2 separate regions of the Homo sapiens genome follow, and region 1 is linked to region 2. The links come from fine-mapping of genetic effects on gene expression. A gene starts in region 2. The other region holds a variant in brackets. All regions are shown on one strand. Distances are between the middles of the regions. Region 1 overlaps IL6R (interleukin 6 receptor). Region 2 holds the start of IL6R (interleukin 6 receptor).

Evidence for each region. PIP is the estimated chance that this variant, and not a neighbour inherited with it, causes the effect.
Region 1: its variant is the best candidate, but not a certain one, in a credible set for the expression of IL6R in whole blood (TOPMed, PIP 0.56).

The regions. Positions count from the first base shown.
Region 1 is chr1:154,444,666-154,449,665 of GRCh38, reverse strand. It overlaps IL6R (interleukin 6 receptor), which reads right to left. Exons shown (of 10, transcript NM_000565.4): 7 at 1,495-1,541. Among named protein-coding and RNA genes, the nearest start is that of IL6R-AS1, 41 kb to the right of the region's middle. RefSeq lists an enhancer at 3,882-4,381. The variant C/G (reference allele first, on the strand shown) is at 3,009.
Region 2 is chr1:154,403,012-154,408,443 of GRCh38, reverse strand. IL6R (interleukin 6 receptor) reads right to left here and starts at 3,101. Exons shown (of 10, transcript NM_000565.4): 1 at 2,730-3,101. The coding sequence starts at 2,814. IL6R-AS1 (IL6R antisense RNA 1) reads left to right here and starts at 1,880. Exons shown (of 2, transcript NR_147855.1): 1 at 1,880-2,005; 2 at 4,487-5,432. RefSeq lists an enhancer at 1,971-2,577 and silencers at 2,817-2,966, 3,167-3,296.

The sequences.
Region 1 (5,000 bases), 41 kb before region 2:
AGAGAAGATGCTCAGTGGATACACTGAAGCAGCTGTTGTCCTTACAGGTCCGATGCAAGGATGCAGGTACTACCATGACTGGAATGCTGGTTCCACCACTTACGAGCTATGTCACCTTGGACAGACTTCTTTTTTTTTGTTTGTTTTTTTGTGAAATGGAGTTTCACTCTTGTTGCCCAAGCTGGAGTGCAATGGCATGATCTCGGCTCACTGCAACCTCCGCCTCCCAGGTTCAAGCGATTCTCCTGCCTCAGCCTATCAAATAGCTGGGATTACAGGCATGCGCCACCACACCCAGCTAATTTTGTATTTCAGTAGAGAAAGGGTTTCTCCATGTTGGTCAGGATGGTCTTGAACTCCTGACCTCAGGTGATCTGCCTGCCTCAGCCTCCCAAAGTGCTGGGATTACAGGTGTGAGCCCCTGTGCCCGGCCCTGGCCTCAGACTTAACTCACGTTAAGAAGCCCTACAAGGCCGGGCGCGGTGGCTCACGCGTGTAATCCCAGCACTTTGGGAGGCCGAGGCGGGTGGATCATGAGGTCAGGAGATCGAGACCATCCTGGCTAACAAGGTGAAACCCCGTCTCTACTAAAAATACAAAAAAAATTAGCCAGGCGCGGTCGCGGGCGCCTGTAGTCCCAGCTACTCGGGAGGCTGAGGCAGGAGAATGGCGTGAACCCGGGAAACGGAGCTTGCAGTGAGCCAAGATTGCGCCACTGCAGTCCGCAGTCCCACCTGGGCGACAGAGCGAGACTCCGTCTCAAAAAAAAAAAAAAAAAAAAAAAAAAAAAGCCCTTACAAGCACTCCCTTGCAATGTTAACATAAGGAGCCAATGAAACAGCAAATGCAAGGCTCACAGTTTAGCAGGATGTGGCCAGTCCTCAGTCGGTGTCAGTTTCCCCAGAACCCGTGTTGGGAGCACTCTAGCCCCATGGGTATGGGCTTCACCTGCAGCTGTTCCTACATGGAACACAGATAAGGTTCAAGAGCCCCAGGCTCCTTCCCTGTGCCGCACAGCTCCAGAAGTGGCTATGACTCCCAGCTTAGCATTTAGGGAATTAAGGGCCACAGGAGGAGATATAGTTGGATAGGAAATTGGATTACTCAAGGAATTTGTTAAGCAGCTTCAGAGGTAATCCTCTTTCCAGCAAATTATGTCACCAAGAGTCCACAGGGGAAGGATGCAGATAAACAGAATCCAATCTCAAGCTAAGCCATTAGCGTTGTCCAAAAAGCTCAGAGATGAAATAGCAGCTGCTAGACGCAGAGCAGTTCTGCACGCCAGGCCAGCGCTGCTCCACTCCTTACAGTCCTGGGACAAGATAATTTCTATGATTCCCTTTCACAGAGGTTTGAAAAGCACAGGTAACTCACCACGACCACATTTCTACTAGTGACAGAACTGGATTTAAACCAAATTCGGTCTGGCATCAGCCCACACTCCTAAACACGAGGTGCTGCAGCCCTGACCCTTTTACAAGAACAGGAGCTCACCTGCATGGGGGTGGACACCTCGTTCTCAGCTGGAGGACTCCTGGATTCTGCGGACAGAAGAAAGGCTCATTATTAGTGATTCATGGGCCCTGGAGTCCTGTCTCAGGGGCTTCAGCATCAGAAAAAAAAAGTTCATCTCAATGTTATTTAAAAGAACAGCATGGGCTGGGCGCGGTGGCTCACGTCTGTCATCCCAGCACTTTGGGAGGATGGGTAGATCACCTGAGGTTAGGAGTTCGAGACCACCCTGACCAACATGGAGAAACCCTGTCTCTACTAAAAATACAAAATTAGCTGGGTGTGCTGGCACATGCCTGTAATCCCAGCTACTCGGGAGGCTGAGGCAGGAGAATCGTTTGAACCCGGGAGGCGGAGGTTGCAGTGAGCCGAGATCATGCCATTGCACTCCAGCATGGGCAATAAGAGCAAAACTCCGTCTCAAAAACAAAACAAAACAAAACAAAACAAAACAAAACAAAACAAAAAACAGCATGCTGGAAATAACCAAATATCCAACCGTAAGGGACTAGCTGTAGAAATTATGACATAACTACATAATGCAGAAACTTTTAAAATTTATTTTATATATATATATGTATGTGTATATATATATATGTGTATGTGTATATATATGTATGTGTATATATATGTATGTGTGTATATATATATGTGTGTGTGTGTGTGTGTGTGTGTGTATATATATATATATATATATATTTTTTTTTTTTTTTTTGAGATGGAGTTTCACTCTTTTGCCCAGGCTGGAGTGAAGTGGCATAATCTCGGCTCACTGCAACCTCCACCTACTGGGTTCAAGCGATTCTTCTTCCTCAGCCTCCCAAGTAGTTGGGATTATAGGCGCCCACCACCACACCCAGCTAATTTTTGTATTTTTAGTAGAGACAGGGTTTCACCATATTGGCCAGGCTGGTCTTGAACTCCTGACCTCAGGTGATCTATCCGCTTTGGCCTCCCAAAGTGCTAGGATTACAGGCATGAGCTACCGTGCCTGGCCAATTATTATATATTTTTTGAGACAGGGTCTCGCTCCGTCGCCAGGCTGGAGTGCAGTGGCATGATGATGGCTCACTGTAGCTTTAACTTCTGGGCTTCAGTGATCCTCCCATCTCAGCTTCCCAAGTATCTGGGACTACAGGCGTGTGCCACCACGTCTGGCCAAAAATATTTTAGAAAAACATTGAAGACATGACATAATGCTGTATGAAGAATGCAAGACAAGAAAAATTCTATGTATTTTGATTCAAACTTTCTAAAGAAATATATTTTTATGATTATTGTGTAACACAGTATATATCATAATACTATATATTTGCACACAGGAAGAAGAAAATGGAAAGATACACATCACCAGAGATAAGCACTATTTCAATTTCCTTCTATGCACCTTTTTGCAATAAAAAATATATAACAAATAAATATTCATTTGCCTGTATGGGTTTAGTACACATTGCAGCAGCAGGGATGTGGACCAGGCACCCTCACGGCTCCCTCCC[C/G]CTGCACGGGAACAGTGTTTCTGCGGAAACCCCAAGGCAAGAGGAGGCTAAGTATCCAAGCGAAAGCCTGGGCCTTAACCGTAACAGGCAGTGAGTGGAATGCTCTGGATTTCAAAACATTTTCTTGTCAGCTCATCATTTTTCCATCAAGAATTCTAAAATTCCACAGAATGGTTTAAACAAAAATCACGAGCCTCGCTGGGCCAGGAGTAAGGACTAGCAAGGAGGCGGGGAGAGGGTGACCCTGCTTCGGCGTCAGGGAGGGTTTCCAGAATTCCTGGAGTATGCCATCACCAGTAAGGGGGAAACCACACACCAGCAGCACCAGAGGAAGTATAAGAATGCATCCACTCTTCCAATTGTACAGAGGGGAAACAGAGGCCCGGAGAGGGAAAGCGACTTGTTCAAGGCCGCACAGCAAGTGCGACCTGAATTGAACCTAGAATTCATGGGAGGGACCCAGTTTATTGTTCCTTTGCGTTCTTCCCAGCCCAGCAGAGGACAGTTACACACTTATAGCCCAGGGTATCTAAAGGATGACCTGAGGGCATGGAGGCACTAGAATGAAAGCTAAAATCAGAAGACAAAGAAGATGGGGGCAGGCCGGACTCACACCTGTAATCCCAGCACTTTGGGAGACTGAGGCTGGAGAATCCCATGAGGCCAGGAGTTTGAAACCAGCCTGGGTAACATAGTGAGACCTCATCTCTAAAAAAAAAAGAAGAAAACAAGAAGAAGATGGGGCAGCCCTAAATAGAAAATATGGCTGCCCATGGATGCTCGTGCAGTTCAGCAGTTTTCCAAACCCCGCCAGAGTCAGCTTCGTCTGGAGCCTTGAAGGCTCCACCTTGCTTGTTGCCTCAGAACCATGGAAATGGGACCCAGTCATTAGGGCTTTTTTTTTTTTTGAGACCGAGTCTCGCTCTGTCGCCTGGGCTGGAGTGCTGTGGCGCAAACTCAGCTCACTGCAAGCTCCGCCTCCTGGGTTCAAGCCATTCTCCTGCCTCAGCCTCCTGAGTAGCTGGGACTACAGGCGCCCACCACCACACCCGCCTAATTTTTTGTATTTTTAGTAGAGACGGGGTTTCACCGTGTTAGCCAGGATGGTCTTGATCTCCTGACCTGGTGATCCGCCCGCCTCAGCCTCCCAAAGTACTGAGATTACAGGTGTGAGCCACCGCGCCCAGCTGTCATTAGGGTTTTTTAAAGGCTCCCCATACTATACTCAAGACAGATGCTTCAGGAAGAAAGTTTCTACTCTCAGTCCTGACCCCCAACACAGCCTGTGGCCCAGAGAATGCCCAGTAACCTCTGGCGGCTCAGGTTTCTGGGGTTAAAGTGGTAATGAACCACAAAGCCACAGGAAGAGGGGAGGAGAGACCGTGGGACCCACAGGCTCAGTGGCGCCAGGCAGCTCCTGCGTGCTGAGCAAGGGGACCCTACTTCACACCTTTCCTCGCAGCCTTTAAACCACCCAACAGACAGCTCATCACTGCTCCTCTATTCGTGTAGAAACAAATAAATAAACCTCACTGAGGAGCCTCCTGAGGAGAAATGACTCACCTCCAGCTGGGTCCCAAATGCCACCCGGGATGGTCTGTGGAGAGAAGCCTAGTGGAGACAAGTACAGAAAAGGCTGTGTGTACAAATCTCCACAGTGTCTGGGTGCCAAAAGCGCCCCTCATTTTGAGGTTTCACCCTTCCTCATTTGGGGGGGGCGGGTGTGGGGGGCAGTTAAGGAGTCTTTTTGTTGTTAAGACAGGGTCTCCCTCTGTTGCCCAGGCTGGAGTGCAGTAGTGCAATCATAGCTCATTGCAGCCTCCAACTGCTGGGCTCAGGTGATCCTTCCACCTCAGCCTCCCACTTAGCTAGGACTACAGGTGTGCACTGCTATGCCCAACTAATTTTTTTTTAACTTTTTTTTGTAAAGACAGGGTCTCCTTATGGTGCCCGGCTGGTCTCTATCTCCTGGGCTCAGGCAATCCTCCCCCA
Region 2 (5,432 bases):
CAGGATTTACCCATGACCATTTTCAGGCTCCTTTTAGGGTGGAGTCTGCATAGCTGATCCTACACAGGCCTCACAGGCTCTACACCGACTCAAGAAATGTTTGCTGCAATGAATAAACAAGCAGCAAGCCAAAGCAAGGAGAGATTTCTGGCAACAGAGAGCCCGAAGCGGGAGGGCCTTCATTCAGTTCCTCAATGACACCATTTAGGCAGCCGTCCTCAAACCTGACAGTGCCTAAGAATCACAAGGGGCAGTTTGTTTAAAAGGACATGCCCCAGGCCTCACTCCTAGGTGTTCTTATTTAATAAATCTGGGTTAGGGTTCAAAAATCATCATGTTTACCAAAGCCCTCCCACCCAGCACACACACCAGATCTGATGCTAGGCTCAGAACTAAGCTTTTGAGAAATACTGATTTAGGGTGAGGCTAGGCACGTGTGTGGGTAATGGGGGCAGGAAGAGGTGCCCTAGAAGGAAATTCAGAAGCTGAGATAGCTCTTTGAGATACTTAAAGGTATACATACTTCTTTTGTGTATTTTCTTGCATTGCAGTAGGAAGAGGGAACTTGAGTCACCCAAGTCCAGCCTTCCAGCACCAGAGTGTTGGAACCGGCAGAAGCCTAAGTCCCAGCTAGTCCAGGCCCTTAGACAACGAGTACACCTGAGAAGTCCTGGCAGCTCCAGGGTGTGTGGGCGGCAGCTGATCCCGAGGAAAACAAACCTCTGGGCTCTAAGAGCCCCGCAGGCTGTACCTGCGGATTTCCCCTCTCAGCCAACTCCAGCCTCTGCTCCCCCTCTGCTCCTCACTTCTCTAAAGCGAAACATCTCACAGTCATTTGCTCCATGCTTCCTGTACGATTTCTTTATTTTTACTCTCCAGTTTGTGGGCTGAGTCTGTGTGGGTGTGGGAGAGGGGCTGGGTATTTCTACTTCTCTGCATTTTCCTTCTGAGCTGGGAGGACTTTCACTTCCTCCCCAGTCTCTCAGTTCTGCCTTTCATGGGCTGTTCAGGCCATGAGACCACCTCTCCTAATCCTTCCTGAGCACCAGGGAAATGGAAAACTGACTGTAACTGGCTGCCCTGGAAGGGCCTAGCATCCACTCAGGAGCAACAGGTGGTGGCAACTACAGCAGTAACAGTAACCTCCCTGGGGCAGGAGCCTTGGGCTGGCGTGACAGCAGCAGAGGCAGCCAAGGGAGCCCTGCTTGCTCCTGAGGCCATCCGAGCCCTGGAACCTGTCTTGCATCCCTCTAACACCACCATGGGCAAGCCTGGGCCTCCACTTCCCTCCCTCAGCCTTTTCTGTCCCAGCACTCAGCCAGACAAGAGTGACTCTCAGCTTGCCCCAATGCCCCCAGCTCTGCCTGCTGATCTAGTTCTATATTTGAGAGTCTTAGACATCTACCACACTGGAGCACAGAGCCACGGGAGGGGTTGGCCTCCATCACCGGGGCCTGACAACCTGCCATCCCGCCATCCCAACCTCCCTGAACCTCAGTCTCCTCTTTCAAACAAAGTTATATGTAGATACAGTGGAGGATTAGAAAACATTGAATGGGTGCCCCAATCAACAGTGTCTGTTACTGGCAGGAGTTATAAATGTGTATTGAAAATGGAATCCCTTCTTTTTTTCTTCCAATCATAAGGACCACAACCATCCAAAAAGCAAAGAGAGCCTCAGACACTCCAGCTCAGCCTCTAGTTGCAGAAAGTCACCTCCTCAAAGGGAGAGATCAGTGTTCACCTAGGACTGGAATTCAGTGTGATCTAGTGGTTGAAAGTCTTAGCCTTCAGCCTCCCCAGCCTGTCAGCTGTTCCAGAAGCCTGTCAGCTGCCCCTTAGTTTTCTGCTGTGTCCTCAAAGAAGCACTGGGACCCTAAAATAAACCTCTGGAGAGCCAGTTGCCCAACTCTTCCAGAAGAGAGACTAGACACGCAGCTGGGCATGCGGCCAGAGCCCAAGAAAAGCCTGGTTTGCCAGGGGCAGATTACAGTCAACGGGAGCAGTAAGTGCCTCTGCCCTCTCCCTCACGGGTCCTTCTCTTTTCTAGAGGGGAGTCCAGCACGTGCCAGCCCCAGGAGGTCTCACTCCCTTGCCAGCCTCCCGACTCAATTCCCAGGACTGGGGCACTTGGCTTCCCAGAGTTGGTGGCTGCCAAAGTGACTCCGTGCAGCGGGAAGATCCGTGACTCAGCGCCCGTGATGTCAGTCCCTTCATAGTCAGGGCACTGTCATCCACACATGCACCCGCGGGGGTGGGGGGAGGACCAGGCGAGGTGGACCCCCAATGCAGAGGGAGAAGAGGGGCGCTGGTACAAAGGACTCCCCAGGCGGGTACATCACCCCGCTGGGGCGCGCCCTCTCGGGCAGTCTCCCCTTAGAGTAACCTGGGACGCGGTTGTGTAAAGGCTCCTGGGGGCACTGGGAAGGAAGCTCGAGAGTCAGGTTTGCAAGGACACAGTCCTGTACACAGACCGCAGGGTTCCCGCACAGCTTCACCGGGCATTCCGGGGAGCGCTCCGGACCAAGGGAGCAAGCGCAGCAGGGGGCGCAAGAGCCACTACCCGCGACCACACAGCTAGGTACCCGCGGGGCCTCAAGGCAGCCACAGAAAAGGGGATCCGTCGCACCTCCTTTCCTCCCTCCAGCCTCCCACAGACTGCGGTGACCAAGGCGGTTTCCCCCAGCCGCTAGCTGCCCCAGCCCTCCAGGTGCGCCCGAAGCCCTTACCCTGCGCAGGGCAGCGCCTTGGGGCCAGCGCCGCTCCCGGCGCGGCCAGCAGGGCAGCCAGCAGCGCGCAGCCGACGGCCAGCATGCTTCCTCCTCGGCTACCACTCCATGGTCCCGCAGAGGCGGACAGGCTAATGGGAACCGGGCGGCAGGGGTGGCAGGGGCGGGGCGGGGCGGTGGGCGGGCAGGCGGGCTCAGGCCCCGGGGGCAGCCCCCATCCGCAGGAGCCCGGCTCTCTACACACACTGCGAGTCCCTCGGCCCCGCGCCGCGCTCGGCTCCTCTCCCTCTGGCCCGGCTCAGTGTCAGTGCGACTTCCCACTCGCACATGACTCAGAGCGGCGGACGGTCCTGGCAACGCAGGAAAACATTTGAGGAACTCGCGCTGGAGCGTCTCTGGGCCGTCCCAGGGTGCGGTTACGAAAGCCGGAGCGGATGGCGCAACAGCCCCGCGCACCGGCCGACCGAGGGGGTGGCTTCCTGCCACAGCGCCGCACCTGAGCGGGGAGAACAGGGGACCGCCAGCCCCACCAGAGCCCTTCCTCCCGGTTCTGTTGATGAGAAAAGGGCGTATCAGCCACCAGTGGGCAGTGGCCTAGTTTTGATTTTTGGTTTCGTGAACGGGATTACGCTGTGAAAGGCACACCTGGAGAGCCCTCGAGGAGGCGATGTTCCTCTTACCCTTAGGGTAAAACAGTGCTTGGTAGCCCGGTTGCCCACTGGAATCAGCCAGGAGCCCTAAAACCCACCAATGTCTGGGTCGGGTCTCCAGAGATTCTGATTTCATCGGTCTGGGGTGAGGCTTGGGCATCGGAAGACTCACCACCGTAAAGGCACAGTCTTTCTGCCCAGCTGCTCCTCGCAGGCTGCAGCAGAGGCAAGGAAACGGTTTGGACTTTGCAGTCAGATAGACCTGGGTCCCCATTTAGACCTACCATCTACTGTGTCTGTGACTTCGGTTCAGAATCTGAGTCTCCATTTCCTCATCTGTCAGAGATAAGAAAGCCTATGCTGCCCAGGGTTATTAGGAAGGTTCTGTGGATGGCACCTAAACACCTGACACACGGTCTGGGCCACACGTGCTCAGTAGACATCAGAACGTTCATGGCTGCCCTCCTGACTTGACAGACAGACACTAACACCAGGGGCAGTGGCTCACGCCTGTAACCCCAACACTTTGGGAGAGCCGGGTGGGTGGATTGCTTCAGTCCAGGAATTCTAGACCAGCCTGTGTAACAAAGTGAGACCCCCATTTCTATAAAAAAATTTAAAAATTAGCTGGGTGTGGTGGTACACACCTATAGTCCCAGCTACTAGGGAAGCTGAGGTGGGAAAATTGCTTGAGTCCGGGAGATCCAGGGTACAGTGAGCCGTGATTGGGGGCTGCTACTCCAGCCTGGATGACAGTGAGACCCTGTCTGGAAAGAAAAAAAAAAAAAGAAAAGAAAGAAAGAAAAGGAAGGGAGGAGGGAGGGAGGGAGGGAAGGAGGGATAGAGGGGAAGGAAGGAAAGGAAGGAGAGAAAAAAAGAAAGAAACAAGCACCTGGCTTTTGAGCAACCACAAGGACCTTGAAGGGGACCATCTGTCCGTCCCTTGGAGGGGAACTCTCTCAAGGACCCCCACAGAGCCTAAAGCTGATAGGATGGCCTCATAGCTGAATCTGGAGGGAAAGAAAAATGCTGAAATAAAGTTTAGGCTGAGAAGCTTCTAGACCAGCAACTGCTCATTAGAATGTGTTTTTCTACCTTTGGTTTCAGGCCAATCCTAACCCAGATCAAAGATCCTGGGACAGCTGGAACAGGCATGGCCTAATGGAACTCCCAAGTGGACAGGGCCAGGCATGGACGGACAGAGCTTCTGAAACAGTCCTCAGACCCCGTGCATCTGGATCTTTCTGTAGGAACCACCCATCAGCAGTGCCAGACAGAACCAAGCACATGCACTGATCCACCGCACGATGGGAGCTGGTGTGGGTGAGCTTGTTTGCTTTAGCCATGCCCACAGACAGGAACAGAAGAGCACAGTGGAGGCCACCAGCCCTCTCGCCTGCTATTTCAAAAGGGGTTGCAGCAGGGCTGGAAAGCGGTTCCCACTGTGGTTGCCCCCTTCCTCTCTGTGGCACACACAGACCTGAAAATAACCAGAGAGGGACTGTGAGCTGCCAGCCTAAAACAGGAAGGCTGCAGAAAGTCCTAGGCTCAGATAGGAGAGTTTAAAAGAATGTTGAAACCAAGAACGGGCATCACAGATCCCACCTGTCTCTGCACCAAAGCAGACCTCCCCCTCTCTAATCTACTGGTGGGGAGCCTGTGTGCTCTGTAGTCATGCAGATCCCAGCTTTACCACTTGCTGGCTGTGTGACTTAAGCAAGCTATTTAACTTCTCTGAACCCCTATTTCCTGATTTGTAAGATAAGCGCAGCAATATACAAAGTTTTAGTGTTGTGGTTCACATGAAAAAATTTAATCCTGGCCAGGCCGGACGTGGTGCCTCACACCTGTAATTCCAGCACTTTGGGAGGCCAAGGTGGGCAGATCATGAGGTCAGGAGTTCGAGACCAGCCTGACCAACATGGTAAAACCACATCTCTACTAAAAATACAAAAATTAGCCGGGCATGGTGGTGCGTACCGGTAGTCCCAGCTACTCAGGAGGCTGAGGCAGGAGAATCACTTGAACCCAGGAGGCGGAGGTTGCAGTGAAC